Linked DNA regions of Homo sapiens: region 2 is reported to be linked to region 1. The links are microRNA targets in miRTarBase. Many come from high-throughput screens and were not tested one by one. Region 1 holds a microRNA gene; the other region holds the end of a gene's coding sequence.
The links. The annotated mature microRNA hsa-miR-645 reads UCUAGGCUGGUACUGCUGA and lies in region 1 at 1,837-1,855, shown strand. An mRNA with a match to its seed (bases 2 to 7 or 8) in the 3' UTR can be bound and repressed. Matches are read on the target gene's strand: a 7mer-m8 pairs with bases 2 to 8, a 7mer-A1 pairs with bases 2 to 7 and ends in A, and an 8mer does both.

Region 2: miRTarBase lists NFYA as a target of hsa-miR-645. Seed matches in the 3' UTR shown: 7mer-m8 at 1,407-1,413.

The regions. Positions count from the first base shown.
Region 1 is chr20:50,584,010-50,587,512 of GRCh38, forward strand. It overlaps MIR645 (microRNA 645), which reads left to right and starts at 1,777; the gene lies at 1,777-1,870. PTPN1 (protein tyrosine phosphatase non-receptor type 1) reads left to right here. Exons shown (of 10, transcript NM_002827.4): 10 at 1-1,232. It overlaps RIPOR3 (RIPOR family member 3), which reads right to left. Exons shown (of 22, transcript NM_001290268.2): 22 at 2,099-3,323. The coding sequence ends at 3,223. RefSeq lists enhancers at 2,312-2,825, 2,826-3,338.
Region 2 is chr6:41,096,952-41,099,951 of GRCh38, forward strand. It overlaps NFYA (nuclear transcription factor Y subunit alpha), which reads left to right. Exons shown (of 10, transcript NM_002505.5): 10 at 406-3,000. The coding sequence ends at 459. It also overlaps a transcript of OARD1 not described here. Among named protein-coding and RNA genes, the nearest start is that of NFYA, 25 kb to the left of the region's middle.

The DNA of each region.
Region 1 (3,503 bases):
CGGTTCACCTTGCCGAGAGAGGCGCGTCTGCCCCACCCTCAAACCCTGTGGGGCCTGATGGTGCTCACGACTCTTCCTGCAAAGGGAACTGAAGACCTCCACATTAAGTGGCTTTTTAACATGAAAAACACGGCAGCTGTAGCTCCCGAGCTACTCTCTTGCCAGCATTTTCACATTTTGCCTTTCTCGTGGTAGAAGCCAGTACAGAGAAATTCTGTGGTGGGAACATTCGAGGTGTCACCCTGCAGAGCTATGGTGAGGTGTGGATAAGGCTTAGGTGCCAGGCTGTAAGCATTCTGAGCTGGGCTTGTTGTTTTTAAGTCCTGTATATGTATGTAGTAGTTTGGGTGTGTATATATAGTAGCATTTCAAAATGGACGTACTGGTTTAACCTCCTATCCTTGGAGAGCAGCTGGCTCTCCACCTTGTTACACATTATGTTAGAGAGGTAGCGAGCTGCTCTGCTATATGCCTTAAGCCAATATTTACTCATCAGGTCATTATTTTTTACAATGGCCATGGAATAAACCATTTTTACAAAAATAAAAACAAAAAAAGCAAGGTGTTTTGGTATAATACCTTTTCAGGTGTGTGTGGATACGTGGCTGCATGACCGGGTGGGTGGGGGGGAGTGTCTCAGGGTCTTCTGTGACCTCACAGAACTGTCAGACTGTACAGTTTTCCAACTTGCCATATTCATGATGGGTTTGCATTTTAGCTGCAACAATAAAATTTTTTTCTAAAGAACATGAATTTGGGGTGCTTCCCATTTTTTTCTTTGCTTAATAGAGCTAAACCAGGATGAGTAACTCCTGTTTCTTTCTATCCCTGCTGATGTGAAACAGATGTTGTCAATCAGCTGGGGTTAGAGTTTTCCACTTCTAAGAATTAACCTCAGCATCCCTGCATTGCCAGCACCCTCAGGCTGGAGCGCTTTCCTTGACTGTGAGCTTGTTGAACACCTTAGGCCTCAGCCCATTTCCTTCCCAAATTGACGCTTTGCCTGTGTAGGGCCCTCAGATAACTTAACAAACTTACCAGTGTTGTTTGAAGAACAGTGTTTTGAGTTGTAATCTCAAAACCATATCCCTTACCCAATTACCTGTAAGACACAATGGTTACCACATCTCAGTACGTAAAGTCCACTTGATATAGAATTGACTTAGAAATAAGACAGATTAGTATAGTTTTTCATTTGTGTACAAAATTAAACAATGTAAATTCCCCCCAAAGTGATTTTTTTGACTTTTTGAAGTAATTTTGGACTTGCAAAATGTTGCCAAAATAGTACGAAGAGTTCCCCAGTACCCTCGAAGTTTCCTCGACTGTTTCAAAGCTGGCTGCAGGCCCAGGCTCATGAGACTGGGAAGAGGACAGGCTGTGGTCATGTGGACCCACAGGGGCCTGGGGCTGCAGAAGTCAGTGTGGCTTCCACCATTTCAGGTATAAAAAAGGGCATCTAAGCTTTCAAGAAGAGGGAGGATGCTCTAGGGCAGCGGTCCCCAACCTTTTCTGGCACCAGGAACCGGTTCCATGGAAGACAATTTTTTCACAGGCCTGGGGGTGGTGAGGGATGGTTTTGGGATAGAAACTTCCACCTCAGATCATCAGGCATCAGATTCTCATAAGGAGCTTGCAACCTGATCTCTTGCACACATTCAGTTCACAATAGGGTTCACGCTCCTAAGAGAACCTGATGCTGCAGCTGATCTAACAGGAGATGGAGCTCAGGTGGTCATGCTCAGTCGCTCGCCACTCACCTCCTGCCATGCAGTCCAGTTCCTAACAGGCCTCAGACCAGTACCGGTCTGTGGCCTGGGGGTTGAGGACCCCTGCTCTAGGCTGGTACTGCTGATGCTTAAAAAGAGAGGGTTTGCCAGAAATCAGATGGGACAAAAGGGCAAAGGCCGTGCCACAGAGTGCCCATATAGGGGAGAGCACGCCTGGAGCCTTCGAGAGCATGCAGAGAAGCCTGGAGACTGCATTTACCGGAGCTGCTGCCTGAGGCCACCCTCCAAGTGTCCCCACAGCGCACCACAAGACCACAGGAGTGACCTCCTCACTGGCAGGTATTTGGGGAAACAACTGCTGTCTACTCTTTTGGGTAAAAAGTGAAACACCAATAGTTTAATTGAAATTTCAGAAAATTGAACATATGAACAAGGCAAATAAATACTAAGTAAGTTAAAAACACAAAATATGTCCAGGAAGTATCGATGAGAATGTTCAAGTTAAAGTTCTCCAATGCCATTGCTACAGCAACCTCAAACCCTAGGTTCTCTCTGCACTATTAACACAGACATCTCAGGACATGGTTTGCTTTTTTTTAAGACTTAAATAGGAAACTAATTTTTCTTTCTTTAAAGCAATTGCGTTCTTCAGTGAACTCTTTCTTTAGGCCAGTTGATGGCTTCTTAGCAGTTTATTGACGAGATCCTAGGGTAGCTTCCGAAGCTGGGTTGATTGATTGCATTTGGGTGCGGATGGCCAAAGTGAGTGGCCCTACTGCCTGTGCTGCTCAGGGCTCCTGGGCTGATGTGGTGGCTTCTTCCCTTTGTGCTGCTGAACATAGGGAAAGTGAGGTTCACAGTCCACCATCCACCAGCCGCCGTCTGTGAGCTCCACCAGCACTCGCAGCAAGTCAGTCGGGCTGAGAGTGTGGTTGTAGAAACCCTGGCTTTGTGCCTTCCCACCTTCCCCAGCTCACCAAGGTGACACCTGGCTGCTGCTGAAATGGCCTGAGCAGTCTTGCATTAGCAGGGCCAGCCACCTGCCAGCCTGCTGCATCCCCAGTGCCTCTTGACGCAGAAGTGCCGAGCAGCTGACCGGCAGCGAGGCCTGGAGTTCTACACACTTGCCTTGGAGCCTTTTATTTAGGGCCTCAACTTGCCTGGCCTTGGCCCTTTTGTAGGTGGCCACCTAGTTTGGCTCAGCTCTGCATCTCGGGGAAGGTCACACAGACCCTCAGCCAGAAGTTGAGCGCTCTGTTGAGGCCGTGCAGCCCCTGGAATGCTGTACCTTTGCCTTGCTTTTTTCTGCCTCTGTACAAAAGACCAGCCCATGCCCTGGGGCTGGGTCAATGGCCGGAGTCTCAGGTAGAGCTCTGGGCAGCTCACACTCCTGGAGGAGTGCACAGCACCATTACCCAGAGTGCAGGCTATGTCCAGGCTGGGCAGCAGCAAAAAAAACGATGTGAGATTTGTGCTCATCAGCCAGGATTTTTTAAAATATTGTGATTTCAACATCTGCCTCCTGGCAAAAGACTTCTCTTTGTTCTGAGCAGAGCTTGTCCATCTTCTCAAAAGCTAACCGTCCTTTTTCACCTGAAATAGCAAAGGGACCTGTCAGCGGGTTGGATCCTGCCTTGGCACTTCCAACTCTCCTGGGCCAGGGTGGCCCTAGTGCTTAGTGACTGTGGGTCTCAGTGGTCTCTGCAAAGCGGCAGGGGAGGGAGTATGTGCGGGAGCCCCCACCTGGTGACTCACATGGCCTGGGGGCCTTGT
Region 2 (3,000 bases), not on the chromosome of region 1:
GCTAAGTACTCAGTATTTAAATGATGATCAAAAAACAGTGACAAAAATACAGCATGACATGGTTTCTCTGGGTCTTTTCCTTAGACACCTGAATCTGAATACTCTTAACCCTTAAGTATAGAGAACAACACAAGGTTCTTAGGAAAGAGATACACTAACAGCCCTGCAGTGTTTCACCATGGAGTGCAGGCCAGACTTTAAATTATTTTAAGAATAAGGTTTATTGTCTCTTCTTTCCTAATGGGGCTACACTTTAAGCCATGTATGCAGACTTAAGATGTATTACAAGCCTTTGATTTACTTGGTAAAGTTATGTGTATTCTCTTGGGGGGATAAGTAGTGAGAGCCATGAGTTCCTGTTGCTTTTGCAAAGGACTTTAATCATCATGTCATCTTTGTCTCTAGGATCCAAACCAAGCCGATGAAGAAGCAATGACACAGATCATCCGAGTGTCCTAACCCCACGCCATGTGATGGAGCTGATCAAGGTCATGTTTCTCACTGTTCCAGGAAATTGATCAACTCTTCCAATGGGACATTGATGATCACATTCTGCCCTTTACTACAGGACAGAAACCACTTAGTTTTTAATAAGTGGCTCAGTATTACAATTGCAGCGATGCCTGGCAAATTGAAGTTGCAAGCCTTTGTCTTACTCTTTCAGTCAGGACCTATTTCAGACTGTTGATGACATTGACATTTCATGGATTCGGATGATGCAAGGAGACACATGCCACCCCAGCAGTACACAAAGCACTTACCTTGACTGGTGAAGTCAGCCAGCCATCTCAGCAGGGAAGAACAACCTTCTCAACCAAAACTGCAATCAGGAAAGCAGCAGCCCACTCCTTCCCATGGAATCTAGACAGCATTTATCCCTCTGGTGGGGGAATCTCACACTGACTAACTGAATGGACGCTTTGTATTCAGAGATGGCTTCCAGGCAAGGAAGTTCTATCTTGTGATACGGAAACAATAAATTCCTGAGATACATTCTTCCAATCTGTGGTAATAATAAGAATTCCTCTCTGCCCAGATGGTAGGTTGATATTTCTGGACTCTAGCCAAGAAAAAGCTAATTCTGGGGATAGAATGATAAAAGACTCAAGCACTAAAAATATACATTGCCGAATCTCTTTTTCTAGCTTTGAAAAGTTGTGGCCTGCTTGTCCCTCTGTTGACTGGTCATCTGGACCATCGTACTTGCTGTGGCTACTTCTAAGACAATGTAGAGGGTTATTAAACCTTGAAACTGCCTTTCCTAAGTAGAGAACAAGACTATTCAACAACTTCTTTGCTGAAGCACTGAGGAGATTTGTAATACTCCTAAAGGAAGGGCCAAACTAGAGATTTTCAATCATAGACTTTGTGACAGCATTTGGGGAACTAAAAGATTCATGTGTTTCAGCCTAGTGGGAGAGAGTGGGGGAGAGGAAGAGAGAGAGAGAGCATGTATACCCGTATGTTATCATAGAGCACGATTCTCCAGTGGATGGATACCTGGAATGGATCATTAAGATGAAGAGAGTAATTCACATTTACTCTAGAACCTTTAACAAGCACTGAAAGGAAGAAGCCTGAGATTTGATCCTTGACAATTTCTGGAAAGCACTGGTCAGTCACACTGTCCTGGACAGAGTCCAAGTTACCCACTAAAGCTTGAGGTGGATGTTGGCTTCACTCCTGCAGCACAATGCTGGCCCTAGAAAGCGAGCATTTTCATTCTTCCCATGGCAGCTGATTCTTTGGTGCCAGTTTTCATGTTTTCTCCATAGGCCTTGTGCAGAAAGGTTTTCTCATTGCATCCATACTGTGAGAATAAACTGCAGACTGAAAGAAACATGCCTGCAGGGTCAGGAACTGGGCCACTGTTCCCAGAACGGGTTGTGCCTCAGAAATCTATTTCTCTTTTAGATGTTGAACCCTGAGAGAACTAAGATGATATTTCAGAAGAGTTGGCTGCCTTCTCTGGAAACAAGGAAAACCCAATAATTCCGAGGAACATTGGGGGTTAAATACCAAGAATAAAAATTGGTTCTTCTTTGACTTCAGCTTAACTGTATTAAGACAGAAATTAAGCCCTCTAAAAACACCACAAAGAGAGATGATTGTAATGATAGAAATAGAGGTACAGAGCTATGCAAAGGAAACAGGAAGTGAAATATTCCTAGTCCCAGGGATCTGGTAATCGCTCCTGGCTTCCAGATGTCAAAGGACTGATCCTTTGGTAAGCTCACTAGAAACTTCTAGCTCTACAAGAGTTTGGGATATTAATGTTATTCAGTAAGTCCCAAGTTTTTCAGAGAATAGATTACTAACAATGAGGAATTTATATTCCTTGGTTAATTTAGGAGTCTAAGATGCAGAGTTCAGAAAGAAATTACTCAGACCTAACTTTGAGTGCTTAAGCTGCCAACAGTTAGAAGATGCTATTTATTTGTGTCTGTAAGTTTGTACATAGTAATGCCAGCCTTGTTGCTGAATTTTTTATTTGGGGGGAGATGACTTTGAATTTTGTTTGAAATGCTTCAGTTGTCATTTTGTCATTGCATTTCAAATAGCTCATGACCCTTTTCTTGTGGTCACTTTGGCACACCATAGTAGCCCACAAAGTGGGGGCAGGGTATTGACATTTGGATTTTTTCTTTGATACTAGTTCTTTTATTCATTTTTATTTGTGACTGTAGTGATAACTTTACAGATGGAGAAAGAGTGAATGGATGAATGAATAATTGGTTTAATGCCTAGTTATGCAACTTGAGTGCTTTTTTTTTTTTTTGCAGGATAATTTTAAGTGTATATATTTTAACTGCACTGGTACATTGAACATGTCAGTGTCGATGCCACTGGACCAACAGAGCATTTTGTGGCTATAGGGTGCCTGATAATAATGTCTTGATTTTTCTTTGGGATTCAACTATATCGAAGGTTTTTCCCCCAGCAGTATGGGGGCGTACAGGTGATCGATCATTAATGTCATTGCAATTGTTATTTTTTAAA